Regions from separate parts of the Homo sapiens genome. Here all the other regions are linked to region 2. The links come from fine-mapping of genetic effects on gene expression. A gene starts in region 2. Each other region holds a variant in brackets. All regions are shown on one strand. Distances are between the middles of the regions. Region 1 holds the start of PRG1 (p53-responsive gene 1). Region 2 holds the start of TEX101 (testis expressed 101). Region 3 has its middle 4.5 kb from the start of LINC03078. Region 4 has its middle 17 kb from the start of CD177.

Evidence for each region.
Region 1: its variant is fine-mapped to the expression of TEX101 in whole blood (TOPMed, PIP above 0.99).
Region 3: its variant is fine-mapped to the expression of TEX101 in whole blood (INTERVAL, PIP above 0.99).
Region 4: its variant is fine-mapped to the expression of TEX101 in whole blood (INTERVAL, PIP 0.97).

The regions. Positions count from the first base shown.
Region 1 is chr19:43,348,427-43,354,697 of GRCh38, reverse strand. PRG1 (p53-responsive gene 1) reads right to left here and starts at 5,642. Exons shown (of 1, transcript NR_026881.1): 1 at 5,150-5,642. It overlaps CD177 (CD177 molecule), which reads right to left and starts at 1,012. Exons shown (of 9, transcript NM_020406.4): 1 at 932-1,012; 2 at 705-845; 3 at 306-491. The coding sequence starts at 983. The variant A/T (reference allele first, on the strand shown) is at 3,631.
Region 2 is chr19:43,410,955-43,418,778 of GRCh38, reverse strand. It overlaps TEX101 (testis expressed 101), which reads right to left and starts at 3,889. Exons shown (of 6, transcript NM_001130011.3): 1 at 3,741-3,889; 2 at 2,796-2,898; 3 at 2,537-2,680; 4 at 2,224-2,406; 5 at 773-901; 6 at 182-611. The coding sequence starts at 2,859. The coding sequence ends at 382. RefSeq lists a silencer at 5,502-5,688.
Region 3 is chr19:43,332,113-43,339,936 of GRCh38, reverse strand. No RefSeq gene overlaps it. Among named protein-coding and RNA genes, the nearest start is that of LINC03078, 4.5 kb to the right of the region's middle. The variant A/G (reference allele first, on the strand shown) is at 4,001.
Region 4 is chr19:43,366,569-43,374,392 of GRCh38, reverse strand. It overlaps the pseudogene CD177P1. Among named protein-coding and RNA genes, the nearest start is that of CD177, 17 kb to the right of the region's middle. The variant G/A (reference allele first, on the strand shown) is at 4,162.

The sequences.
Region 1 (6,271 bases), 63 kb after region 2:
AAAAGAATGCAGGATAACCCAGTTAATGGTGATTTCATATCAGAAATCCGTCCTGTTTGCTCTTAGAAGAGGAGGGGTGCGGGGATTCCCGGGTGGCAGGTCGGTGGGAGGGATCGGGAGTGAGTGGGGAGGGATGGAAAGGGAGCGGGGCGGGGCGATGGTCAGGGAGCAGTCAGGGGAGGGATGGAGCCAGCGAGGGTCGGGATAGCGAGCGAGGGTGGGAGGGACTCCGTAACAGCCCCTCTGTGCTCAGCGGATCCCCTTCTAGCAGCCCCTCCCTCTCCTCCCGACCCTCCCGCAGGCACCTGCTGGGGGCTGTGGGGCCCAAAGCGGGAGGGAGTTAACGAGGTTGTTGCAGAAGTCCTCCTGGCGGCACACGAAGGTGTAGGAGATCAGGGAGAGGCCGGGGCCCATCCGGTGCTCAGTGACGCGGGGCTCCTGGTCCTTGGCCTCCGTGCAGCCCTTGGAGAGCACCAGGCTCACTTGGGGTCCTGGACCGAAAGAGGGAGGCAAGCGAGGATGGAGGTCAGGCCTCCAGGGTCCTGGAGGGAGACGCTGCTACACGGCGTAGGCTGAGAGGCTGGAAAGGGGATCACCGGGACCCTAGGAGTCGATCCCCCGGAGGGGTGGCTCCCGGGTCCCTGCACAGGGATCAAGGGACTGAGGGGACAGGGCGGGGTCTCTGCACGCCAGGGCCTTCTCACCGCTCTCAATGAGCATCAACGTGTCCTGGCACCCCAAGCCGCTGTCGCAGCTGGTGTTCTTAGGGGTCCATTGCCGGGGCAGGTCGGACACCTTCCACACATGCTGAACTGTCCCAAACTGGCAGAGCAGCGCCTGCACTCCTGGAGTGGCAAGAGCAAATCCATCTCAGCAGGGTTCCCTTGCCCGGCCTCCAGGGAATCTCCTCCAGGCTGGGCTCATCACTCACCTGGCAGTGGGAGGATGAACCCCAGGAGGGCCAGCAGTAATACCGCGCTCATGACCCGTCTGTGGCTGGTAATCTCTTTCTGCTTTTTCAGCAGGAAACAAGTCCTTTATACCAGCCCTTAAGCAGCCAGCCCAGAAAAGGGTGGGGAGGGGAGGGCCTTGCAAAATGGAGGCTTGGGCCCCACCCCAAGTCTCAATGGCCGCAGTGGCCTATCAGGGACCCCCTTTCTTCCTCAGACCTTCGGGTCCAGGCATCCAGCCCCTCCTCCCTCAGATGGAGGGTCCAGGACCCCCAGCCCCTCAGCCCCTCCTCCTTCAGACCCAGGAGTCCAGACCCCCAGCCCCTCCGCCCTCAGACCCAGGAGTCCAGGCCCCCAGTCCCTCCTCCCTCAGACCCAGGAGTCCAGGCCCCCAGTGCCTCCTCCCTCAGACCCAGGAGTCCAGCCCCCCAGCCCCTCCTCCCTCAGACCCAGGAGTCCAGGCCCCAGGCCTCCCTCTCTCAGACCCAGGAGTCCAGGCCCCGAGGCCCTCCTCCCTCCGACCCAGGAGTCCAGACCCCCAGGCCCTCCTCCCTCAGACCCAGGAGTCCAGGCCCCCAGGCCCTCCATAGTTAGAAACTGTGGCATCTTGACCCGAGGTTCCCCCGGTCCAGACTCCCAGCCCTCTTTCCTCCTGAGCCCAGCTATGTGGATCACCACCCCCACCCTCTTTCTCCAGTAGTTTGGGAAGGCAGTTTCCTCATTTCTCATGGGCTCCCTGGCCACCTCTGTACCCCAGATGGGGAAATGGCCCAACTACCTGTGAGGACGTTGTGCAGTGGGCATCAGCTTGTCCCCATGTCTTCCGGTCCTAGTTTCTACCCTCCACTGTCTTCCCACTTCTCTGTTCTTTCTCTTTCCTTCTTATATTGCTTTCTTTTGATTCTTCTTTTCATGCTTTTCTCTCATGCTTTCTCTTCTATTCTCTACCCTCACAGTACAACATAGGACTCAAGTCCCCAGTTTCCTACCACCAGGAAAGGCTTGGCCAGAGGTGGAGTAGAGACTGAATATCTATGAAAGAATTAGGATATATCTGAAAAATGCAACATTTATTTGCTGGAAGCCGATGGGAGAGCAGTGTTGTGCTGAAAAACCAAGTTTTCTGAAAAACAATACCCACAAATCCTGCCTCGTAGTGTTGGCCTATTTCTCTGGTGTAAATACTCATAGCATGTCTGATTTTAAGCTACCTACAGTTTGCCAACCAGGCTGATGAAATCCCTAGCTATTTAACCATGGGCTTGTCCAGGGCTGTACAAATCAGCTGTAACACACTGGGGTGGCGGGGAGGAAGACAGGAAGGAACCTGGGGTATCTGTCAGTGACTGCAGAGGGACGTTGTGGGTGTCTGTGACGGAGAGAGGAGAAGCAGAAGAGGGAAGGCGAGAGCAGGAATAGCAGAGAAAGAGAAATGAATGTGACTTGCAATTATATGTTTATTTTTGACATCTCTATAAATTTTATCTTTATTTGTCTTTGCAAGTTTATTGCAAGTTTAATATTTGCCACACAGACAGGGAAGTGTTTGTCTGATCTCCTGCTATGTCTCCACCACCTACATGGCATACAGTACATGCCCAGTAATTTTTTTTTTTTTTTAGAAACAGAGTCTTGCTCTCACCTATGCTGGAGTACAGTGGTGCAGTTGTAGCTCACTGCAGGTCACTACAGCCTCCATCTCCTGGACTCAAGCAACTCTCCCACCTCAGCCTCCCGAGTAACTGGGACTACAGGTGCACACCACCATGTCTGGTTAATTTTTGTATTTTCAATAGAGACAGGGTTTCACTATGTTGTTCAGGCTGGTCTCAAACTCCTGACCTGCGGTGTTTTCATTTTGAAAAATTTCAGGCTGGGAGCGGTGACTCATACCAGTCATCCTAGCACTTTGGGAAGCCAAGGCGGGTGGATCTATTGAAGTCAGGAGATTGAAACCAACCTGGACAACACGGTGAAACCCCATCTCTACTTAAAAAAAAAATACAAAAATTAGCCCGGTGTAGTGGCAGCCACCTGTAGTCCCAGCTACTCCGGAGACTGAGACAGGAGAATCGCTTGAACCCAAGAGGCAGAGGTTGCAGTGAGCCGAGATCGCACCACTGCACTCCAGCCTGGGCAACAGAGTAAGACTCCATCTCAAAAAAAAAGACGGAAAAATTTCAAACCGGCAGAAAAGTTGCAAGGATAGTACAGTGAACACAAGTATCCCCTTCACTGGATTCACCCACTCTTCACATTTTATTGTATCTGTTTATACACACACAACATATGCTTTTAAAATATTCTTAAATTTTAAAAACAAGGAGTAGACATTGTAACTCTCACCACTAAGTGCTTCAGCAAGAACCTTCTTAAGATTATTCTTAAGGGGGCTGGGCACAGTGACTCACACCTGTAATCCCAGCACTTTGGAAGGATCACTTTAAGTCAGGAGTTCAAGACCAGCCTGGCCAACATGGTGAAACCCCATCTCTACTAAAAATATAAAAATTAGCTGGACATGGTGACACACAACTGTAATCCCAGCTACTTGGGAGGCTGAGGCAGGAGAATCACTTGAAGCTGGTGGTGGAGGTTGCAGCAGTGAGCCGAGATCACACCACTGCACTCCAGCCTGGGTGACAGAGCCAGGCTCCATCACAAAAAATAAATAAATAAA[A/T]AAATTTTTAAAAAGCATATATCATTCTTTTTTTTCCTCTCTCTCTCTTTTTTTTTAGATGCAGTTTTGCTCTCTCACCCAAGCTGGAGTGAAGTGTCGTGATCTCTGCTCACTGCAACCTCCGCCCTCCAGGTTCAAGCAATTCTCCTGTCCCAGCCTCCCGAGTAGCTGGGATTACAGGCGCCTGCCACCACGTCCGGCTAATTTTTGTATTTATAGTAGAGACAGGGTTTCACCATGTTGACCAGGCTGGTCCTGAGCTCTTGACCTCAGGTGATCCACCTGCCTCGGCCTCCCAAAGTGCTAGGATTACAGGTGTGAGCCACCACGCCCAGCCTATATAGATTATTCTTAAGGACTTTGTCCTGCGTAACCACAGACCAGGATCAGACCCGTGTAGTTTACACAGATGCACTGTTGTCTAATAGGAAGCCCATTTCCAGTTTTCCTCTGTTGTCCCAATGACATCTCTCATTGCGTTTTTGCTTTCTGATCAGGAGAACATCCGGGGTCAAGCATGAACTGCACTGCGTTGTCTTTATGAAAGAGAAACAAAAACTCAGGACCCCAATTCACTGTGACAGAAGGAAAAAAAAAAAACTGGAAGCTGAGTCATGCAAGAAACTGCCTTTCCTTTTGTTCCTAAGCAGACAGCTACAGAGAAAAGGTTAAGTATCTCCGTAGGTAGCTACTCTATGTTCATCTTATCTTTCTTTAAAAAAATTTTTACTTATTTATTTTTTTTTGAGAGAGTATCATACTTTGTCTCCCAAGCTGGGGCGCAGTGGCACGATCTTGGCTCACTGCGACCTCTGTCTCCCGGGCTCAAGTCATTCTGTCACCTCAGCCTCCCGTGTAGCTGGGACTACAGGCACCCACCACCGCGCCCAGCTAATTTTTGTGGTTTTTTTTGTAGAGATGGGTTTTGCCATGTTGTCCATGCTGGTCTCAAGTTCCTGGGCTCATGAGATCCTCCCACCTCAGCCTTTCAAAGTGCTGGGATTACAGGTGTGAGCCACCACGCCCGGCCATATTCACCTTATCTTTCTCAAGGTGCCAATTTACTGAGCGTGAGATGAATACGTGATTGATTATTCCCCTACCTCCTGCTTTCTCTTACACCATGTGGATTCAGTAATGCGACCACACCCTCCTTCTTTCACCGCCAGCCAGCTTTTCCACCCTAAATATTGAAGTCCTCAAAATTATCTTTGGAAAAAGGCACAGACCACAGACTGTTTCTATGATTGCATGGTTTTTTCTATGTCCTTAACCTTGGCAAAATAAGCTTCTAAGTTGATGGAGACCTGTCTCAGATACCTTTTGGTTTACATCTCATCTCTGGACTCCCCTTTAATCTAGGAGTGCTCCCCACCTGCCTTTCATTTTCTTTAATGTCATTGAAAGCAATGGTTCACTTCTTTTTTTTTTGTAAAGTCTTCCACCACCTGGATGTGTCTGACTCAGACTATGATTAGAGTAGTTTTAATGATTTTTGGCAATATTCTTCTAGCTGGGTGTCGTGTGTCACATTCAGAAGGCCTTTAATGCCTGTTTGTCAAATTCTTGGCTAATTAACAACTGCTGTGTGAGGTAAGCCATGGAGGAGGCTGTGTGAATGTCCTATTCCCCACCACGAGACCCTTCTGTCTCCTTGCACACATTGTGCCCAAGCTACTTCCAGAAAATCCTCTGTGATCACGGCAAATCACATGATGCTTTTGGTCCAGCTCCCCTGCTGCCCTCCTATCCACTCTTCTGCCCATTACAGGAAGCCTTTACACCCAGGCAGCTCAGCGTCCAGAGCTGGTTCCACTCATCCCCTTCAAGGAGAGGAAAACTGAGCCCTGGGAAGGAGAAGTAAAGCTGGAGTCACAAAGCCAGGAAATGGTGGCCAGGGGCACGACCCAGGCCTTATAAACAACCTGCACTCTTCCCCCTGCAACACAGCCTGCTGAGGACGCTCATCAGTCATCTCAGTGGTTCACTTCCAATCTCTTCATCTGCCAAGCACCCAGCATGTTCCAGCAAAGACAAATTATTCCTATGGCAAACTGACCTGCATGCAGTTTACAGGACTTTATGTTATAAAGAGGAGGGATCTATGGCACTTAATGAAAAGTTACACTTAAAGATTTTCATAGGCCTGGCTGGGTGTGGTGTCTCATGCCTGTAATCCCAGCACTTTGGGAGGCAGAGGTGGGTGGATCACCTGAGGTCAGGAGTTCGAGACCAGCCTGGCCAACATGGTGAAACCCTGTCTCTACTAAAAATACAAAAATTAGCTGGGCATGATGGCATGTGCCTGTAATCCCAGCTACTTGGCTGGGGCAGGAGAATGGCTTGAACCCAGGGGGCGGAGGTTGCAGTGAGCTGAGATTGTGCCATTGCACTCCAGCCTGGGCGACAGAGTGAGACTCCATCTCAAAAATAAAAGAAAGGATCTTTACAGGCCTTCGTGTACTGACCAGAGGAGCAAAAATGAATAAAAGGATTACAACATGAGGCTGACATTGCTGTGCGCCTATATCCTTGAGTGCTGGTGGCCCCATGGATTAGATCAACACCTTGGAAGCTAATTTGACACTAGACCAACAAAGTCCTTTGACCTGGAGTTTCACTTTGGCAAAAAATAATAAAT
Region 2 (7,824 bases):
GACTTTACGTCAAAATATGTAAGTTCTTGCCTTGGCTCTGGCCATAGCTAAATGTAAGAAACTCACTGAAATTTTCCAGATCTCAGATTCTCTTTCTGGAGAATGTGTGGTTTGGAGAAGATGAATTTTAAAGGCTCTTTCAGCACTAAAATTCCACTTCTAGTGTTGAAACATACACAAATCACAGCAGAAATGTTTATTAGTAACGCCTACTGCATACAAAAATTATAGCAGAAATTGTATTAAAAATGTCAAATACGTTCATAGTATCTCTGTATTCTCCCTCAAATTCCCATCTACTCCTCAGCTTGTTGAACCTCAACAGTAAGAAGGCTCCCAGTCAAAAAAGATGTCCTCAGACCCAGGCCCAGAAGTGCCTTCTTAGGAAAAGTGAATAAATGATGGCAGCAGCAATGGCAGCAGTAGCTGTAACCCCCAAACAGGAATGGGAAGACAGGTGGCCCCATTTTCAGTCTTTCGAGGTTGAGTGAGCAGCTGATGTGGGCACGCTTCCCTCACAAACATGGGTCCTACTGCTAAGATTCCAGACATCAGCCTGCAGCCAATCATGGCTGTACAGCCTTTGACCTCCACAGACGACTCAATGCCACCTATAGAACAAGGAAGGATCGGGAGAGACAGAGATGTTTTAGGACATCAGAGGAGAATCCAGTCCCCCCTCATCCCTGGAGAGCTCAGTGTCAGAATCTCTGGGGAGCCACTCAAATGGTTTTCCAGCCTCTGAAACTATCAGATGTTCATTTCAGTTTACCTCCAGTGATCTCAAGTTTTCCTTGATAGCATCGAGTTGTACCATTGGGACAGGGAAGAGAAGGAGCACTGAAACAGGTCCCCAAAGCCACACAGGTTGGACAATGGAGGGTTGTTGACACAGTGGAAGCTGGAGGGAAATGAGAGAGACAGTTAAGGGCAGGTCCTGCCTCCAGAGATGTTGCTCCTTGCTGCCTTCTCTTCCCCAAGATTTTCCTGCAGATGCCACTCTAATCAAGGCCCATTACTTCAGCCTCCCCATCCTTCCCCAGCTGGTGTTCTCTGCTGTGAAATCTCCATCGATCTGACTTCCAAACTCTGCTGAGGTGTGAAGATACAGAGATGAAAAGGACATAGTTCCTGTCACCTGGCATCTCTGCCTAGGAGAAAGACATGTAAGTAATCAATTCAGTAGCTGCTGTGTTCAAGGTATAATGACAAAGGAATGGAGGAATACCCAACTACCTAAAAGAATTTGGCAAATATTTTCAAAGAGCTGATACCTGAATTGACATGGAGGATGAACAGGGGTTAGCTATGTGAAAATGGGGTGGGGAGGGTAGTAAAGGAAACAGCAAGGACAAAGGTCAGGTGGTGTGAGCCAGCTTGGTGGATTCAGGGAATTGTGAGAAGTTGCACGACTCATATTCAGCTTGTAGGCCCAGCTGTTTCTTTGATCTGTTTTTTTTGTTTTTGTTTTTGTTTTTTATGGCCAGAATCCATTTTGATTGGCCAGTGCCATCTACATTGTTAAGCATTTTGAGTATTAGCCCCAGTTAGCACACAGTAAATGAGAGAGGGAAGAGAGGGAAATGAAGCTGAAAAGACAGGAAGGGCCAAGTTACTACAGGCCTTGTAAATTGGGGAACTGGGCCGTTCTCGTGCAGCAGTGGGAAACCAATACTTGTTAGACTGATAATACCACCCTGTTCGGAAACCTACACTGATGTCTTATTGCTTTTTTTTTTTTTTTTTTTGATGGAGTCTTGCTCTCTGTCCCAGGCTGAAGTGCAGTGGTGTGATATTGGCTCACTGCAACCTCTGCCTCCTGGGTTCAAGCAATTCTCCTGCCTCAGCTTCCCGAGTATCTGGGATTACAGGTGTGCGCCACCAGGCTAAGCTAATTTTTGTATTTTTAGTAGAGACAGGTTTTCACCATGTTGGCCAAGCTGGTCCCAAACCCCTGACCTCAGGCGATCCACCTCACCCAGCCTGTCTTATTGCTTAATAAACACAAAACCCAGTTTACACTCCAGGCTTCACTGGTATCTCGCTGCTCTGAGCAGTGTTTAGATCCCAATGAACAATTCAGAAACATAAAATTACTTGAACTGTGAGGTACTTTGGGGTATGGACCACTTAGGCTAAGCCAAGTCAGAATGCAAAGGGAGGCCATACACAAGCTCTTTATGGAGTTTCTCTTAGTACCTATCTCCCCCACTTCCAGGGTACCTGTGGTCTCACTGAACTCCCAAAACTGAGACAGGCTGTCTTTGTCATTACAGAAGGAATCCTCACAGTAGTTACTGTAGGAGGTCACGATCAGGCCGGGAGGTGAAGAGTGCTGGACAATTGTTATGGCCTCCTCCCCTTCCGGGATGCAGCCCTTCGTGGCCAAAATGGCTGTCTCAGTCCCTGTTATGAGACAGGAAGGAGGGGAAATGGATGGTGGCCGTCACAATTGGCCTGGACGAAGGGAACAAGCATTGGCATGGAGATAATCAACCTCCCTCCTACCCAGCCCAAATGCCCCATCTCATTTCACCTGCTTTAATTATTAGTATGGTTTCCTGGCAAAGTGCCCCTTTGTCACAAGTCTCCACTTCCTCTGTGGTCCAGTTAAACATATTGGCTGGATCTGCTTCCACAGTCATGGACAGACCCTTTTGACAATACAGCTCTAGGCCCGCTGAGGAGAAAACAAGAAAAGGATAAGCACTTCTCCATGGGCCAAGGCGGCTCCCTTTTCATCATCAGTCCACCTTCTGTGACACACGGCTCTCCCCTATGTCCCCCATACGCACAGGTCAGGAGGGAGGCTCCTAGGACCAGGAGGATCAGCAAATGCTGGATACGAGGGGTTCCCATGGCTTCTTCTGGAGAGGTCTGGGAGGAGCTGGTCTGGATCTGTGAATTTGATGGAGAGAAGGCAATTAACTTTTCAGCCAGAGTGCATGAGATCAAATCTAGGTCCTGGCAAGTACTGACTTCAGGGTGGGGTGTTTTAATCTGCATTTTTTTTTTTTTTGAGACGGAGTCTTGCACTGTCGCCCAGGCTGGAGTGCAGTGGCGCAATCTCGGCTCACTGCCTCTGCCTATCAGGTTCAAGCAATTCTCCTGCCTCAGCCTCCCGAGTAGCCGGGATTACAGGTGCCCGCCACCACACCCAGTGAATTTTTTGTATTTTTAGTAGAGATGACGTTTCACCATGTTGGTCAGGCTGGTCTCGAACTCCTGATCTCAGGTGATCTGCCCGCCTCGTCCCCCCATAGTGCTGGGATTCCAGGAGTGAGCCCTGATGCCCGGCCTCACAGTGGGGTTTATGGTGTATATGACCACGACTTCTAAAGTCGTTCTGTCCCTAACCGGCTTGTGAGCTGGAGCGAGTTCACAGGTTTATCACGCCCCAGTTTTTCATGGTTTTAATTCTCAGGCCCGGCCACCCAGTGCCCTCCAACTTCAGGATCAGGAGTGTGGCCCTGAAGGCCGCTTCTCCCTCAGTCTCAGGGGTCCCTTACATTCTCTCAGGGACCCAGAATCTCGGCCCCCAGCCCCAGCCCCAGCCTCATCAGAACCCGGGATTCTGAGAGCCCAGCCCCGTCCTATGTAGGGATCGAGGAGTCTGGGTTCCAACCACCTTTTCCTGCGGGACACACCATTCTGGTCCCCTCCCTCTCAGGCCCGGGAGCCCAGGCCCCCAACCCTCGTTCCCCTCAGAGCCAGGATCTGGGTCCCCAGCCTTCTCTTTCCTCAGAATCCAGGAATCTGAGTCCCTAGCCTTCTTTTTCTCTTTAAAGAAGCAAAATTGCTGCCGGCTTCCAGGCAGACGCCTCACAAGAATCTCACGACGCCAAAGTTGAGGCCCGGAACGCCTTCTCCCCGGGCTTGGCATTCTCTTACGACGCAAGGCCGGGCCAGCCTGGCCACACAGCACTCGAAACCCCATTGGTGGATGCAAAAGCATCGGATAAGTTCATTGGATGAGCCTGGAGGAACGCGGCACCTCATTGGCCACAGAGAAGTCAATTCCTGGCAATCTCGGAGGGTGCGCATGCTCGGAAGGTGAGTGGCGGGCAAACCGGCCGGAAGATCCTGCCTGTTTTTGCAGCCAGAGGCACGCAATGGAGGGTGGGCAGTGCGTTGCCAGATGGCCTCGCCTGGCCCATTTCTCTTTTTGCACTCTGTTGTCTCTGCTTCTCCAGCCACACTAGGAGGTCAGACCCTTGGCCCTCACTCACGGAACTTATCTCCCTACCCAAATGGCCTCTCATGTTCCCAGCCTGGCCCCTGCCTCGGCACCCACCTTAGTGGCCCTAGCCTCTGGGAGTCAGCTTGGCCTCTTGAGTCTTCACTTGCAGTGGCCCCTGTGCAGCCCAGGCGTCTTCATCTGATTGCGCTATCGCACCAGCCTCCTCATGGTCTCCTGGAGGGTTGAATCTAGGAATGCCCCCCTCAGCATCACTTTGGGCACCCCGAATGCATGCATGAGCAGTAGCTATGATGGCACAGGCTGCTGTCAGATCGAACCCACGCGTCCGTGTCAGGACCATGAAGAAGACATGTCACTCGGATTTGTTGCTCATGGCTGGCAGTTCACTTTCACATCTATGTAACCTTCCCTTCCCTCCCCTCCCCTCCCTTCCCCTCCCCTTCCCTTCCCTTTTTGACAGACTTTTGCTCTTTTTGCCCAGGCTGGAGTGCAATGGCACAATCTTGGCTCCCTGCAACCTCCTCCTCCTGGGTTCAAGTGATTCTCCTACCACAGCCTCCCAGGTAGCTGGGATTACAGGCATAAGCTACCATGCCTGGCTAATTTTTTGTATTTTTTTTTTGGAGACAGAGCCTCTCTCTATCCCCCAGGCTGGAGTGCAGTGACGTGATCTCAGCTCACTGCAACCTCCCTCTCCCAGGTTCAAGCGATTCTCATGCCTCAGTCTCCCCTGAGCAGCTAGGATTACAGGCACCTGCCACCACACCTGGCTAATTTTTGTATTTTTAGTAGAGACGGGGTTTCGCCGTGTTGACCAGGCTGGTCTTGAACTCCTAACCTCAGGTGATCTGCCCACCTCGGCCTCCCAGAGTACTGGGATTACAGACGTGAGCCACCACCCCTGGCCTATGTAAGCTTTCCAGGTGTGACATGAAGTTGTAGCAGGATGAGCTGCAGACAAAACTCCTCAGATACTGGATTAAAGAAGGAAGAGGTTTATTTGGCCGGGAGCCTCAGCAGACTTGCGTCTTAAGAGCCGAGCTCCCTGAAAAATAAATTCTTGGCCTTTTTTTTTTTTTTTGGAGTCTCCCTCTGTTGCCCAGGCTGGAGTGCAGTGGTGCAATCTCGGCTCACTGCAAGCTCTGCCTCCCGACTTCATGCCATTCTCCTGCCTCCGCCTCCCGAGTAGCTGGGACTACAGTCACCCACCACCACACCCGGCTAATTTTTTTGTATTTTTAGTAGAGATGGGGTTTCACTGTGTTAGCCAGGATGGTCTCGATCTCCTGACCTCGTGATCCGCCCGCCCCCCAAAGTGCTGGGATTACAGGCATGAGCCACCACGCCTGGCCAATTCTTGGCCTTTTTAAAGGCTTACAACTTCGAGGGGTCCACATGAAAGGGTCGTGATAAATCGAGCAAGCGTGGGAAACGTGACTGGGGGCTACATGCATCAGGTAACAGAACAGAAAGTTTTGCAATGCTTTTTCATATAATGTCTGGAACTTACAGATAACACAAGTAGTTTAGGTCAGGGGTTGCTGTTATTATTATTACTTTTTTTAACTCCTAGGGCTGGGTGGTGGTGCCAAGGTTGACTGGCTATTTATCTTACTTCTGTTTCTTTCCAACTTTTTGCTTTCTCTCTTTCCTCCTGTCTTGTGAACTAGGCAAGGTCGGGGGAGGAGGGCAGCAGGAGTAGTAGTGGTCTCCTTCCTTAAAGTAAGGCAACGCTTTGTATACTTTCAGAATTGGTACTGATTCTGTAAGTTATAGTATAAATGAGTATTTATTTTTAATAGAGAAAATGCCACAATAAGAAAGGGATTGGTAAAGCTTCAATCCCTTTGTTATCTTTGAACTGTTATCTTTGAATGATCACATGTCAAAGGATCCAGGAAGAATGTGTGCCAGTTTTCAGCCCCCGTCTGTCCCCCGAGGGCTCGTGCTTGGGAAAGCAGTCACCTTGTTGAGTCACTCTCCAGGTGACTTGGTCGCAGAATCCCTCCATCTCACACCTAGAAGAGACCTTGGAAGCCTAAGCACCCTCCACCTCTATTCTTCACCCCATTTCTGCTTCAACAGCTCCAGGGACCTCCTCTTGCTCCGTGACATAGTTTGGATATTTGTCCCCCGCCCAAATCTCATGTTGAAATGTAATTCCCAGTGTTGGAGATGCGACCTGGTGGAAGGTGTTTGGGTTATGGGGGCAGATCCTTCATGACTTGGTGCTGTCCTTGCAATGATGAGTGAGTCCTTGCCAGATCTGGTTGTTTAAGTGTGTGGCACCTCCCCTTCTTACTCTCTCTCGCTCCCCTTCTCTGGCCTGCATCCTTTTGCCATAAGTAAAAGCTCTCTGAGGCCTCCCCAGAAGGAGATGCTGGCACCACGCTTCCTGTACAGCTGCAGAACCTTGAGCCAATCAAACCTCTTTTCTTATAAATTACTTCTAGTCTCAGGTATTTCTTTATAGCAGTGCAAGAACACCCCAATACACAGCCCCTTGAGAAAGGTGGCTTTGCCTTTTTGGTGCAAGAGAGATTGACAGATCTTCCTTAGCCTGAGCCAATTTCTGTTCCTCTCCAAGCTTCAGTGTCCTCATCTAGAAAATGAAGAGGTTAGGCTGGGTGCAGTGGCTCAAGCCCATAATCCCAGCACTTTGGGAGGCCAAGGTGGGTGGTTCACCTGAGGTCAGGAGTTTGAGACCAGCCTGACCTTCACCAACACGGTGAAACCCTGTCTCTGCTAAAAATACAAAAATTAGCCAGGCCTGGTGGCACGCGCCTGTAATCCCAGCTACTTGGGAGGCTGAGGCAGGAGAATCACTTGAACCTGGGAGGCGGAGGTTGCAGTGAGCTGAGACTGCACCATTGCACTCCAGCCTGGGCAACAAGAGCAAAACTTGGTCTTGGTCTCAAAAAAAAAGAAAAAAAAGAAAAAAAAGAAAATGAGGAGGTTAGTCTAGAGCAATGGTTGGCAAATAGTTTATGAATCCATGGAACGTTTGTAAAAAAGAAAAAAGCTCAATGGCTAATATACAGTGAAGGCATCTTTTTATATAAGCACTTGTGACACCACCATTGGTCACTGGATTATTGCAGTACGCCCTGCCCTTGCCCATGTGGCTATTTCCCACCTGGCACCAGAGCGATCTCTTAATTGCAAGCCACACCACATTACTCCTGTTTAAAACTTTCTAATGGGCCAGGCACGGTGGCTCAGGCCTGTAATCCCAGCACTTTGGGAGGCCGAGGTGGTGGATCACCTGAGATCAGGAGTTCGAGACCAGCCTGGCCAACATGGTGAAACCCTGTCTCCACTAAAAATGAAAAAATTAGCTGGGCGTGGTGGTGCGCCCCTGTAATCCCAGCTACTCTGGATGCTGCAGCGAGAGAATCATTTGAACCTGGGAGGTGGAGGCTGCAGTGAGTCAAGATTGTGCTACTGCACTGCAGCCTGGGTGACAGAGCAAGACTCTGTTTCAAAAAAACCAAAACCTTCCAGTGGATTCTCATTTTACCTCAAGTAAGATTCTAGGCTGGGTGCCATGGCTCATGCCTGTAATCCCAACACTTTGGGAGGCTGAGGTGGGAGGATCGCTGGAGCCCAGGAGGTGGAGGTTG
Region 3 (7,824 bases), 79 kb after region 2:
TTAATGCCCCCTCATGTTTCACAAAGGACCCCATGAACTGTGATGAAAGTCACTGTTCATTATCATGACGGCTTCCAGTACTTACAGCAGTCAGCACTAATGTCATGCACATCATCAGCACTTGGCATGAATCCCCATTCATTACAGATCAGTATTAATTGAGTCAATGCTCTGTGCCCGATACTTGTACACTCATAACATGGATTGTTAATTTAATTGAGACAACCACAGTCTGAGGTCAGTGATATCACGATCATCTCCACTTTCCAGACAGGAAGCTCTGCTGGTAAGGTGCAGAGCTGGGGTTCAAACCCAGGTGGTCTGGCTCCAGGGCCAGGTGTGCCCGGGAGCAGGGCTCTTCCTGGGTGTCCAAGGCCACCTTGTCTCCAGGAGTGTAACCGTGTTTCCAGCCACTGAAAACTTGGATTAAAGCCCAGACAAGGTAACGTTTGCCTTTTCTGGCTTTGGGGTTTAGAGTTTGAATTGAGAGACATTCTCCAGGAAAGCAGAAACTTCTTGGCTAAAATCCAAACCTTCTAGGGAATTTATTGCAGAGATGGGGAGGTGGTTCTCATTTCTGCCCTTCTCAGAGTATAGATTCATTAACTCAGGAGATGCAAAAGGTTACATTTTCCATATTCCTTTTCTCAACATGATAATATTATACCCCTTTCTGCCTAGTTTTATGCTTCTTTTGCTCTTGGTGCCAAAGAAACTGTAAACCTTTGTCTTAAAACTGGAGTCCCTTCCAACTGCTGGTGACAGAAATCCCAGCAAGATAAGAAGGAGCAAATGTCCCCGCTTCCCAGACAACTTGAGATATAAGCAGATCCTATTCATCATCCTACAATGTTCTTGCAAAGATTATTTCTATCAATGGAGCTCTGTAAAACACCCAGACTCCAGAGACCATCACTTGGTCCTGTGAAGGTAGCTCTTAGCCTTCAAAAATCTGAAATTCAGATGAATTGCCTAAGTTACATGTATTAATCCATTGCCCAGGGCATACTATGTAACTAGACAACTCCGTTTTCTGGAAGATGTACATACTTATGACATTTGTTTGTTAGTCTGGAAAACTGCCTTTCAGGGAGGGAATGCTTTTCCTCTATCCACTTAGGTTCAGTATCTGGAGGCCTGTGAATTAAACTAACAAAAGACCAATTAACAACAGAAAGGGCAGAGAATTTTTATTACATGCATGGGAGTTCACAGAAAAGAAAAAATGAAACGGCTAGACTTGTGGGGCTTATATACCATTTTAACAAAGGAAAGGGGCTTGTTCTTCAAAGGGTGATACATCATGGGACAGTGACCCGGAAATACCTGGGGCACTGATGGAGATGCAGGTTCTGTTAGTGAGGTCGGTCTATGCATACTCATCTCAGTGTGGACTCGCCATCTCCAGGATGAGTTGCTTTTCTTAATGGTCTGGGGAGGAAACACCTTCCCAAAAGGAAATATATGCCCTGCTTCTAGGTAGATAAGGAGAGGGCAGTGCTCTTCCAGCATCTGTTGATTCTCAATGGCCTTCAGCTCAAAACAATCCTTATACCAACGTGGTACATTTTGGGGTGACTTAACTTGATCCCTTTCAGGCCACTGATGAGTCCATCTTTCCCCACCCAGGTGGACACAGGAAGAACCTGTGATGGATGGATTTCTTATTCAATGGATGGATTTCTTACTTAAATGTAGGGGCTCTTTAAGAATCATTCATTAATTCACTGTGCACTCCCTGAGCTCCTGCTCTGTGCCAAGCCCTATGCTGAATGATACTAAGACCCCAAAATGAATGAGACCCATCCCCGCTCTCAGGGACTTCTCATTCCCAGGAAGGGCAGACAGAAAAGGGTGCTCAGGCCCATAAGAGGGTGTGGTGACAATGACTGTGGCTAGGCTGAACGACACCTCTCAGAACTCTCTTCCCTGTAGGTTCCTGTTAGGGTGGGAGCGGGACACACCTGCCCAAAGCAGCCGCCGTTGTGCATTTCATGCTGGGGAAATCCAGGCAGGAGCTTCCGTGGCTCAGGTCCAGGTGTTGCTCATCTGCTAGCTCGGCTGGTCAGCCTGGAGCAGCAGCAGGACCTGAAACTGCTCCACCTTTACCCCAATCCTCCTTCAGTTTCTCCACCTCCTGAGCCAGGTGTGCGTTGACCTCTGTGACAAAGGTCACTCCTGCAGGTCCCCTGCACCACCAAGATGAGGCAGCAAGAATAGAGGCAGGTTCTGTGGGTCCCGAAACCTTCCACCTTGTGTGGGCTCCTGGCTTGTCCTTACTCCCCACTTTCCATCCATCTCCCCTTCCCCAGGGCCTGCCCTGCAGACTTGGAGCTCAGGTCAGATGCAGAGCCCACAGCCTCCTCACAGACTTCCATCAGCCAGAGATGGGATCCTGACACATTCCACCAGCGCCAAGTGGAGAGATATTTAGGTATTTAGGGGTCTGAATGAGGGGCAAACTGGCCCACCTGGAGCGGCAGGGAAGGTTTCCTAGAGGAATTCCTGCTATTCCTCACTGCGCTTCCAAATTTTAGTCGTGTTCCACTTTTACGATCTGAATAGCACTTGCACTGCTATTTACTCAAAAATTTTCCTTAAAGCAACTCACTGTTTTTCTTTGGCCTCATCTTAAAACAATAATGTTTATCCAATCATGTGATTAATATGCTATTTTCAATTATTTTTCTCTAATAGGCGCTTAATCACAAGCATAGCCTGTAACGCTTTTTAACAACTGTCGTGTGTAACCCCTTAGAATCATCTCACATGCCCTCAGCCACTGACACCTGAACCCTATTTTGGGAAACACTCCTTTAGGTGAATTTTGAAGGATGAACAGAGGTTTACATGGAACCAAATGGAGAAAGGGGATTTTGTACTGAGAGAGCAGGTTAAGAAGTTTCCTAGAAGATGTGACAGAAGCTGCATTAGTTATCCATTGTTGCCTAGCAAATTACCCCAGGGCTTCAGGGCTTAAAACAGCAACAGATATTTGTTACCTCTCAAATTCTGTGGGGCAGGAATTGAAGAGTGTTTGTTTTCAGCTTTTTATTATGAAGCTGGGTGATTGTGACTTGGTGAGTCTCATGAGGTTGGAGTAAAGAAGCCAGTCAGGGTGCAGTCATCTGCAGCTTTACTGGGCCTGAAGGGTCTGCTTTCTAGGAAGGTCACTCGCAGGGCTGACAATGTGATGCTGGCTAGTTCCTACCTCAGGGCCTTTGCACTTGCTGTTCCTGTGCCTGGGGTGTCTTTCATCTACTCTTTGTATAACTAGACCCTTCCCATCCTTGATGTCTTTGCACCAATGCCACCATCCATGACCTCTGATGCCACCAAGTTACTTTCTTACACATCATCCTTTGTTTTCAACTTTTTATTATGAAAATTTCAAACATCCAGAAAAGCGGAAAAAATAATACCAAGAATACCCGCATCCTCTCCTTATATTCAAGTTTAACATTTTGCCATATTTCCTCGTTTTTTTCTGAACTGTGTCAGAGTAAATTGCAGGCATCAAGGCACTGTGTCCTTGAGTGACACTATGTCCTTGAGTGCTTTAGCGTGCCTCTCCCCAGAGTGACTGGCCCACAATCCCATGATCACACCTGAGAAAATAAACAATAACTCCCTAACCCTATCTAATATATAGTCCTTTTTCAGTCTTCCCCTTTGGTCTCCAAAATGATTTTTCCATCTGTATTTATTTATTTAATTTATTTTGAGACAGAATCTTGTTCTGTCATCCAGGCTGGAGTGCAGTGACAGGATCTCAGCTTACTGCAACCTCCACCTCCCAGGCTCAACTGATCTTCCTGCCTCAGTCTTTAGAGTAGCTGGGACTATAGGTGTGTGCCACCACGCCTGGCTATCCATGTGTATTTTTAAAACTGGAATCCAATCAAGACTTATGCCTTATATTTGGTTATTATATCTCTTACATTCTACAATAGTTCACCCGCCTATTCATTTTTTTGTGACTGCTAAAGACAGCATGCCC[A/G]AAGTGAAGTCAACTCATGCTAAAGTTCCACATGCTTTTTTTTGTTTGTTTGTTTGTTTTTGTTTTTTGAGATGGAGTCTCACTCTGTCGCCCAGGCTGGAGTGCAGTGGCACGATCTTGGCTCACTGCAAACTCTGCCTCGGGGGTTCAAGCGATGCATTTTTTTAATCCTTTGTTCTGAATGCAATAATGACTAAAAGATTTTCACAGAAACTTCACAAAATAAGATATACGAATAGCTAATATGCACAGAAAAAAACTACTCAACATCATCAGTCATCAGGGAAATGCAAATTAAAATCACAATCAAATGTTGCAACCCACCAACCAAATTCCTGAAAGTAGAAAGACAAGACCCCAAATGTTGATGAGGATATATGGAGCAACCAGAACTCTCATATACTGTTGTTGAGAATGTAAAATGATGCAACCACTTTGGGAAAAGTCTGTCCCTTTCTTATACAAGTAAACATATACCTACTCCATAACCCAGCAATTTCATTCCTAGGTATTTTACCCAAAATGAATGAAACATGTGATCATAACAAGACACATACAAAGATGTTATTTTGTTTTATTATTATTATTTTGTAGAGATGAGATTTCATCATGTCTCCCAGGCTGGTCTTGAACTCTTGGCCTTAAGGGATCAGTGCCTCCTTGGCCTCCCAAAGTGCTGGGATTACAGGCATGAGCTACTGTGCCCATCCAAAACATACACAAAGTTATTTTTAAAAGCAGATTTATTCATAATAATAATGGTCCAAAACTGAGGAAATATTAAAACAAAATACCCATCAATAGGAGGATGAATAAGCCAGATGTGGTATATTCACACTGCTGAATATTATGTTGCTATAAAAAGTAATAAACAAGGCCGGGCCCGGTGGCTCATGCCTGTAATCCCAGCACTTTGGCAGGCCGAGGCGGGTGGATCACGAGGTCAGGAGATTGAGACCATCCTGGCTAACAAGGTGAAATCCCATCTCTACTAAAAATATTTAAAAAAAAAAATTTATCCAGGTGTGGTGGCGGGCGCTTGTGGTCCCAGCTACTTGGGAGGCTGAGGCAGGAGAATGGCATGAACCCGGGAGGCGGAGCTTGCAGTGAGCAGAGATCATGCCACTGCACTCCAGCCTAGGCGACAGAGCGAGACTCTGTCTCAAAAAAAAAAAAAGTAATAAACTACTGATAGAGGCAACAAAATACTTCATTCTCAAAAACATTTTGCTGAGCAAAAGAAAATTTAACCCACAGGAAAACGTACACATTGTATGATTCTATTTATATGGAATTCTTCTACAGACAACATTAATTTATGATGAAAACTCAGCACGATGGTTGCCTCTGGAGGTGGGACTGGGCATGAGGATTGGCTGGGAAGGAACTCACTGGGGCAACAGGAACTGTGTGTGTCTTGGAAGGGGTTGCATGGGTGTATGCACTTATTTGTCAAAACTCATCAAAAGGTACACTACAACTTTGTGCATTTTACTTTATGTAAATTTCACCTAAGATAGAAACAAATATTAAACTCTAGTTAATGACGTTAGTGCTGGGGTATTTAGGGCCTAAGGGTACTGAGATCCGCAACTCACTCTGACATACATGAAAAAATAGGATGGATTTATTTTCATGGATGTAAGAATATTTAATCAAGCAAATACTACAAAATATTAACAATTACAGAATCTACATGATGAGTATGTAAGTGTTGGCTGTACAACTTTTTCAATTTGTTTGTGTGCTTGAACATTTTCATAATAAAGTGATCGAAAAGAAACTAAATGTGTCTCTTCATCTTTTGAAGATGAATTTTGTGTCCTTTAGGAGTGTTTTAAGAGTTTTCTCGTATAGGTTTTACAAATTTCTTGTTAAGGGTATGCCCAGGTGTTTTATCTTTATATTGTCATAATAAAAGAGGTCTTATATTACACCTTCTATCTGAGTATTGTTTCTGTGTATAAAAGTTATTAACCTCCTTATGTTAACTTTACATCTTTCTATTAAATTCTTGCATTGATTAGTTTTTCACTATGTCTGGAATTTCCTAGATATATAATCACATATTGGTTGTGAATTGGTATAGCTTATTCTCCCTCTTTCTAAGTCTTATATCTCTATTCGTATCTGTACCCCAATTTCATTGGCCAATGCCTCCAGTACAATATTGAGTAACAGCAGTGACAGTGGGCATCAGACAGGGACACAGTTGACCTGGAGGCAGCACCCCCAGTGCTGTGATGGAGGAACACAGGGCATTCTGGGGACCACCTACCTCCCAGGCTGGCATCCTCTCTCTAAAGCCCCCAGAGATACCTCCCTGAGCCCTTCCTTTGAAACCTTGGGGACAGGTGGCTCCTTCTAAGGCAGCCCATCCTCCTGGTGGACAGTTCTCTTGAATCTCGACCTGCTGTTCTCTGGATAACTCCTGTCCTCTCCCTGGGCTCATCTTGCACTGCATGGAGTTGGGCAGCCTGGGGACCTGCAGTGAACAGGACCTGGGGTGACCTGACCCTGCAGTCTGGAGGTCAGATCCCACTTCTGCCCAGGGGTCAGGGCCAGCTCATACCATGCAGACCCTGGTCAGTGTCCCTGGGGCAGCCCCTGACAAGGCCACAAGTCTCCTCTTGCCCTCCAGGGGGCGACATCACACACAGATAACACTCAGGAAATGGATTCCCCTGGACAGGAACCTGGCTTTGCTAAGGAGGTAGAGGTGGAGCCTGGTTTCCAGCCCTTGCCCCAAATGACCCTTCTGGTCCCTGCCATGTGCCTGCTCCTTCATGGTGCCTGCTCTGCCAAGGGTTTTTGTGCAGCTCCCCACTTCCTCCTGGCATCACCCATGGGGAAGGTGTGGTAGCCACAGGACACACACACACACACACACACACACACACACACACACAGACAGACACAGTCTTTCTATCTCTCTCGCCCCCCCAACCACCTGCAAGGTTAAGGGGTGAACATAGGGAGAACATGGACAGGCCCTGAGCCACAGCTCAGCCAACAGACACAGAAAGGGAGGGTCTCCATGAAGCCTTCCCCAAGGACAGCAGGGCTCAGAGCCACCCACCTCCCTCCACCACAGTCCTCTCTACCCAGGACACACAGGACAACTTCCTCCACACCCTGGAGCTGGAGCTCCACCTGAGTCCAGCCTGGGTCTCTTTGGGTCAGAGGCCAGGCTGGTGACACTGGAGACAGAGGGCTGGTCCCTCCCCAGTCATCCCCCAGTGAGCTCCTTTCTATCCCCCAGAGCCACCTCTGTCACCTTCCTGCTGGGCATCATCCCACCTTCCCAAGCACTAAAGAGCATGGGGAGACCTGGCCAGCTGGGTTTCTGCATCACAAAGAAAGAATTCCCCAGGTTTGGATCCCCAGGGTTCTGTGTGTGGAGCTGACAGACCTGAGGCCAGGAGATAGCAGAGGTCAGCCCTGGGGAGGGCGGGTCATCCTCCCAGGGGACAGGGTTGCACCAGCCTTGCTACTGAAAGGGCCTCCCCAGGACAGCGCCATCAGCCCCACCTGAGAGCTTTGCTAAACAGCAGTCAGAGGAGGCCATGGCAGTGGCTGAGCTCCTGCTCCAGGCCCCAACAGACCAGACCAACAGCACAATGCAGTCCTTCCCCAATGTCACAGGTCACCAAAGGAAAACTGAGCTGCTACCTGACCTTCGAAAGATAATAGCCGATTTCCCAAACAGGCCAGTTTCAATCGCATGACAATGACCTCCCCTCTGCTCTCACCGTTTCTAAAACAGGAACCTGATTCTCCCCCATCAGAGATTTCTCCCTTGTTCCATGAGCCTTTCCCGAGTG
Region 4 (7,824 bases), 44 kb after region 2:
TGCTGCTCATAGATGTAGGTACGTGGACTGAGGTAGAAGACGAACACCTGTCCCAAGTCCCTGGCAGCTCCCTCCACCCCACTGGATTCTTTCCCCTGAATTTCCTGCTCAGCTCCCTTCACATCTGCAATTTTCAATCCGACTCTTCTTCTCTCTGCATCTTGGGTTCCCCTTATGAAAACTGGGGGTGAAGCAGTGGGAATGACAGTGTCTGCCTTTCTGGGGAGGGGTGACCACGTATGCGGTAATCCCTGCCCAGGGTGGAGAACCGTGCCAACACCGAGGACTCTCAGTGGCTTCATACATTCTGGAAATGTTTATCCAGCATTTGTTTTAGGTGCCGCAGATCCAATCCCATCTGTATTCCTGCAGCTTTATATGCCTTGAGAAACAGGAAACAAACAAACAAAAAGCAGCAAAGTATGGGGAATGGAGATCCCAGCTCTGGAGAGAAATCTGGCAAGGAAAAGGAGATAGGAAAAGTGAGGGGAAGGCTGCAATTTTAAGCTCAGTGCTCAGGGGAGACTCATGGAGAAGGTGACGTTTGAGCGAGAACTGGGAGGAGGCAGAGCTTCGGGCAGGACCCAGGCCCCAGCCTCCGTCTTTGCCCCACACTAAACATGACCCAGCAGTTGTGATCAGGGCATTCACCCTCTGCCTGGGGGGTATTGTGAAGGGCAGGGAGTCCAGCTCTGGAGCCCCTGCTGCCCTGGGAGCTGCCCAGTCCCCAGCCCAGCTTTCCCTCTCACCCTCAGGACTCACATCAACCCTGGTGGCGACCTAAAGCTGCAGCGCTGTTGGGGCTCAAAATTCCCAGAAGACCACCATCCACTCAGCCCCTCCTGGGGTGCTTGTGGCCTCCTATACCCACTTCTGCTCCTCGGACCTGTGCAATAGTGCCAGCAGCAGCAGCGTTCTGCTGAACTCCCTCCCTCCTCAAGGTATGGGATCCAGGGCCGTGGAGAAATGAGGCCCAGACACACAGAGACTCTGGCCCAAGGTGGGCAGCTGCTCTGAGCACAAAGTCATGTACCCCCACCTTCCCTCTGCTCCCCAGCTGCCCCTGTCCCAGGAGACCGGCAGTGTCCTACCTGTGTGCAGCCCCTTGGAACCTGTTCAAGTGGCTCCCCCCGAATGACCTGCCCCAGGGGCGCCACTCATTGTTATGATGGGTACATTCATCTCTCAGGAGGTGAGTGCTGCAAGCAGGGCCCCAAGGATGAAGGCGCTGGTGTCCTGGGCTCCTGGGACTGAGGGAGAAGGGGCTGGGGGCCTGGACTCCTGGGTCTGAGGTAGGAGGGGCTGGGGGTCTGAGCTCCTGCGTTTGAGGGAGGAGGGTCTGGGGCCTGGACTCCTGGGTTTATGAATTTGGCTGGGCTGTACTCTGTGTCCTTTCTGACTTGGTCTTCTCCCTCTAGGTGGGCTGACCACCAGAATGAGCATTCAGGGCTGTGTGGCCCAACCTTCCAGCTCCTTGTTGAACCACACCAGACAAATTGGGATCTTCTCTGTGTGTGAGAAGGGTGATGAGCCGCCTCCTGCCTCTCAGCATGAGGGAGGTGGGGCTGGGGGCCTGGAGTGTCTCACTTGGGGGGTGGGGCTGGCACTGGCCCCAGCGCTGTGGTGGGGAGCGGTTTGCCCTTCCTGCTAACTCCATTTCCCCCACGATTCTTCACCGCTGCTCACCACCACACTCAACCGTCCCTTGTGCTTGTAACCTAATGGCCTTGGACACCAGATTATTTCCCCATCCTGTCCATGAATCATCTTCCCCACACATAATCATTCATATCTACTCACCTAATAGCAACACTGGGGAGAGCCTGGAGCAGCCGGACTTGCCCTGTGGGAGAGGGGACACTGGAGGAGTGGCTGCATGTGTCTGATAATAAAGACCCTGTGCTTTCTCCCAGTGCTGGGATTTCTCCATGTAAGGGGACAGCAGGACGCCCAGGGATCTAGCATGGTGGAGGAGAGGAACCTAATGAGAAAATGGCCATCCAAAGCCTGCCCTTCATTGGTCTGGTTCATGTCTCCAAACCAGCTTGGATGGTAGCAGAGACTTCAGGGTGCTCCAGCCAAACGTATTTGGGCATCACCATGACCTGGGAGGGGAAGATGCACTGAGATGTATGAGGCTTCCAGCCTAGCAGCCAGGGCCCTAGCACAAACAGGGGGCTGGCCCCATCTGAGCGACTGCAGGAGAGGTTAGTATAGTCATGCATTGCTTTACGACAGGGACGTGTCGTTAGAAATGTGTCGTTAGGTGATTTTATCACGAAAGGAACATTGTAGAGTGCACTTACACCAACCCAGATGGTACAGCCCAATACACACCCAGGATGGATGGTAGAGTTGACTGCTCCTAGGCTACAAGCCTGCAGTGCATGTTATGGTGTGAATACTGCAGGCATCGTAACACCACGGCAAGTATTTGTGCATCTATACACATCTAAACATAGAAAAGGTACAGCATAAATACACTATTGTCATCTCAGGAGACCACCGTTCTATACGCAATTCGTCACTGACCCAAACGTTGCTATGTAGCATCTGCCTATTGTGGGATAATTGACATAAGGGCTAAAGAGAACTCCAGAAAAAAATGGGTTAGCATTTTCCCAGAGCTGTTACCATTGGGTATCTCTTACCACCATAGCCCAAAAAGGGTGAGGAGAAGAGCCACTGCTGGAATCTGCAGACAGAGAGAGAGAGAGAGAGAGAGACATAGACAGAAAGAGACAGAGAGAGCTGGAGAGAGAGCCGGAGACAGAAAGAGAGAGATATTCAGAGAGGGTTGCCTAACAAGAGCTCCCATCTCAGGCTGAAAAACGCGTCCAGCCCGCAATGATACTGGGGAGGGAAGTGGGGAACTAAAATTCCAAACTGATGTCCTCACTCTGGTCTCCAGTTGAGGTTCCCCATTGACTGAACCCCCTAGAGGCCACAGAAGCAGGAGACTCCACTGGTCCAGCCCCCATAGATCTGCCATTCACAGTAGAGAACAGAGGAGAGGAAAGGGAAGAGGAGAAGAGAGTGAATCTGGAGAAGGAAACAGAACACGTCTAGCACCGTTCACTCCCTTGCCCCTCGGCATCCACCCTTTCCCTTTGTCCAGATGAAAATCAGAGTCCAGGACAGGCTCGGTGGCTCACGCCTGTAATGCCAGCACTTTGGGAAGCTGAGGTGGGAGGATCACTCGAGCCCAGGAGTTTGAGACCAGCCTGGGCAACATAGTGAAACTGCTTCTCTACAAAAAATACAAAAAATTAGCCGGGTGTGGTGGTGCGTGCCTGTCTGTAGTCCCAGTACTTTGGGAGGCCGAGGCGGGCAGATCATGAGGTCAGGAGATTGAGACCATCCTGGCTAATACCGTGAAATCCAGTCTCCACTAAGACAACAAAAAATTAGCCGGGTGTGGTGGTGCACGCCTGTGGTCCCAGCTACTGAGAAGGCTGAGTCCAGAAGGTCAAGGCTGCAGTGAGCCAAGACTGCACCACTGCACTCCAGCCTGGGGGACAGAGCGAGACCCTGTCTCAAGGGGGAAAAAATAATCAGAGTCCTCCGTACAGACGACACACAATTCCAGTCCTTCCCTCTGTCACAGTAACAGTGTGTGATGGTGACAGTGATGTCCTCCTCCCATTGTGCTGTGCACCAGTTCTTCGCCCACAATGAGAGGAAGATGGGGAAGAGATGGCTTCCAATACAGCTGCTGAGGTCCTGGGGGCGGGGCTGCTGGTGCTCAGAGCTGCTTTCTTCCAGTACATTCCACATTGTCCTCCCACCTCCAAAACCTCCTTTGGATGTTATTTGTTACCTGCAGTGTAACCCAAATCTTGATTCTTATGGAGAGTGAGTCTTGGATGGCCTTGTCTTTAGTGGGTTTCTATAGTTTTCCATGGAACAGGGCCCTGGCCAAGGAAATGTTACCGCCATGAGTTGCCTGCCTTCGAAAATAGCCTCCTTGTCCCAGCCACCCGACCTCCCTCTGTAATCAGATGCCATTCCCCCGACTGCAGAGTGACGTCTCCTTTGCCTGCTGTTTTGGCAGCACAAGGGGCACAGGATGGCTGGAGGGCTGTCATGGCTTCCTGCAGATCAGAACTAGGAAGAGATTCCTCATCCACAGCAGCCCAGGGCCACGGGGACAAAGAGCAA[G/A]CATTCTCTCAGTGGGCTGGCAGGTGCAGTCACGGGAGGGAGCCGCGCTTATTCTTCCTGTCTTTCCTGGATCTTTGCATCTGGCCCTGGGGCGCGTGACCCGATAGCCTGGTTGCTGGTTTATAAGATGTGTGGCCCCTCCTGTGGGTGGTGGGGTACGGTCTCCCTCCCGGTGCCCTGATAAGCCACACATGAGCCATTGCGCCAATCTGAGAAGCAGCTGTGTCTGTATAGAGGGGCACCTGAGACGGTCAGTGGGTTCCATGGGTGTGAGTTAATTACCCCCCATTCTTTGCGTTAACACGTGTCCCCAGTGGAAGCAACCCTGCATGGGTTCCAGAGCCACAGGAAAGGCGCTGTTCACAGAAGCACTGAGCAGGGTCCAGGGAAGGCCAACTGGAACCCCCAGTGTGTGCGTATCCGTGTGAGGACAAAGCCCAGTCCCCTCCAGGATGGGACGTGTCCTGTGTGGCCAGCCTATCTGCAGTGGCCGGGTAGTCCTCCTGTAAAATGACGCCTTCCAGGGGCTTAGCCCCGGGCTCTGCCTACACTGGGCAGGGCTGGGTACAGTGTGCAGCCAGGCCAGTGCTGGGAGACTCAGTCCACTTGTGGTAAGGTACGTCGCCGTCCTCCCTATCCATGTGGCCATCTGCACCTGGACCCCCTGAACAAGCTCTGAGGGACAGAGTCTGCCTGACACCATCCACCAAACACCAAGAACCTCATCCCCACAGCACAGGTTCTGGGCTTAAGGGTGGGGACGGCATAGCTCACACTTTGTGCCCATCCCCAGAGGAACATCCATGTGTCCTCCCTGTCTTAAGTTTACTCTTTTATTCTCTTCAAGTCCTTGACCATGTGGCCCGCTCTGGGTTCATGCAATGGACCCAAGTCCATCCCTCCTTGCAGAACCCCTGAGGTTCTGCCCATCTGAAGGATTTCCCTTCATCACTCCTCAGGACCACCTGAAGTGGGCACTAAGGCAGCCGCCGTCCACTTCTGCTGGGCGCCAGCTCACCGTGAGGACCCATCCATAAGCCTGGTCTGCACTTTCCTCCTCTGTATGAGGTCACAGGGCTTCCCAGGAGCTCACAGATGTGGTAGAGGGAGGGGCAGGAGGACAGGTGCCATGGGAGCCTGAGTCACTTGCAGTCGGGGGAACGGCATCTCATTACAGAGGGAGGTCAGGTGGCTGGGACAAGGAGGCTATTTTCGACCTTTGGGAATTACAGCTGAACGTGAGATTTGTGTTCGGACAGAGGAAAGCCATATCATTTGGCTTGTTTACACCTTTGGCTAGTGTGAATAATGCTGCTATGAACAAAGACATGCAGATACCTGCTGGGGCCCCTGCTCTCAGTTCTTTTCAGAATACACCAGAAGTAGAATTGCTGCATCGTGTGGTAAGTCTATGATTAATTTTTTGAGAAATGACCACAGTGGTTGTGCCATATTATATACCCACAAACACTGCACAAGCATTCCAATTTCTCCTCGCCAACACTTTGTTTTTTTTTTTTTTTTTTTTTTCAGAACTGCCATCAGAACAGATGTAAGGTGGTATCTCACTGTGGTTTTGATTTCCATTTTCCTAATGATAAGTGATGTTGACCAAATTTTATTTGCTTATTGGCCATTTATAAATTCATTTTACATTTCCTCCTTTGTAATGCCAGAGGTGGCACACTGTGCACTGTTCTGCTTCTTGTTTTTCTCACTGTGCAGTGTATCTTGGAAGTCTTTCCAAGTGGGTCGACAGAAGGATACTTCAATAAAAATGGGCAACACCGCTGGACAGCCATCAGAGCCATGAAGTCCCTGGCTTAGGGGAAGGCAGAAGGAGGGTGAGAAACAGAGAGATCGAGAAAGGCAGAGAGAGAATGGGGGCAGGGATGGAGAGAGAAAGAGAAAATGATAAAGACCCAGAGAGAGACAGAGTCAGAGATATATGGGGGTGGAGAGGGGAGATACAGAGAGAGGCAGAGAGGAAAGGGTACAGAGACACTAACACAGAGAGATGGAGGGAGGGGAGAGGCATGGACAGAGGGAGAACTCAGAGAGTCAGAGCCAGAGAAGTAAAAGGTGTGCCGTAGAGAGACACAGGGCAGGACTAGGGTGAGACAAGAGAGGACCCAAGCTTGTGGATCCTTGATTAAAAATCAATGGTGTTATAATAAGAAAGAAAAAGGAAAGAAAGAAAGAAAGAAAGAAGGAAGGAAGGAAGGAAGGAAGAAAGGAAGGAAGGGACCAAGTGAGAGGGAGACAAAGACAGAGAGAGACAGGGAGACACAGAGATGAAAAGACACAAAGTGAGCCAAAGACACACAGTGAGGAGGAGACAGAGCCAGAAACAGAGACCCAGTGCGGTGGAAAGAGAGAGGCAGACAGACAAGAGCAGCATCTTCAGGGCGACCCGATGCCCAGTGCCCCTGAACTGCTCCACGGGGAGGTGGCTGAGCGCACAGCCTGCATCCCATCCATCATTTCCTGGCCTTCGTGACTGGGTGACCGTGCACAATCCAGTCCCCGTCTCTGAGCCTCAGTTTCCACACTGTAAACCAGGCATAGATACACCACCTCAAGGGTGGTGGAGAGGGCTGGGCTGGCTGTTTCTGCTTAATGCCCCCTCATGTTTCACAAAGGACCCCATGAACTGTGATGAGAGTCACTGTTCATTATCATGACGGCTTCCAGTACTTACAGCAGTCAGCACTAATGTCATGCACATCATCAGCACTTGGCATGAATCCCCATTCATTACAGATCAGTATTAATTGAGTCGATGCTCTGTGCCCGATACTTGTACACTCATAACATGGATTGTTAATTTAATTGAGACAACCACAGTCTGAGGTCAGTGATATCACGATCATCTCCACTTTCCAGAGAGGAAGCTCTGCTGGTAAGGTGCGGAGCTGGGGTTCAAACCCAGGTGGTCTGGCTCCAGGGCCAGGTGTGCCCAGGAGCAGGGCTCTTCCTGGGTGTCCAAGGCCACCTTGTCTCCAGGAGTGTAACCGTGTTTCCAGCCACTGAAAACTTGGATCAAAGCCCAAAGTAAACTTTCCCTTTTCTGGCTTTGAGGTGTGGTGTTTAAATTCAGAGACATTCTCCAGGAAAGCAGAAACTTCTTGGCTAAAATCCAAACCTAGGGAATTTATTGCAGAGATGGGGACGTGGTTCTCATTTCTGCCCATCTCAGAGTACAGATTAATTAACTCAGAAGATTCAAAAGATTATATTTTCCATATTCCTTGCTGAACATAATATTATACCCTTTTCTCTCCAGTTTTATGCTTCTTTTTTTCTTGGTGCTAAAGAAATTGTAAACCTTTGTCTTAAAACTGGAGTCCCTTCCAACTGCTAGTGACAGAAATCCCAGCAAGATAAGAAGGAGCAAATGTCCCTGCTTCCTAGACAACTTGAGATGTATACAGATCCTATTCAGCATCCTACAATGTTCTTGCTTGACGCCCACAAAAACCTTTCATCCTGTACGGGGAAATCAGACTTGACTAAACTCATACTGGCTTTGAAGAAGTAAAATCAGGATTGATAAATTCATATACGGTAAATATCAGAGAGGTAGAAAGTAAACAATAGGTGATACAGGGAATACCCACAAATTAGGAAAGCAACGGGCCATTTAAACCACAATAGAATTAT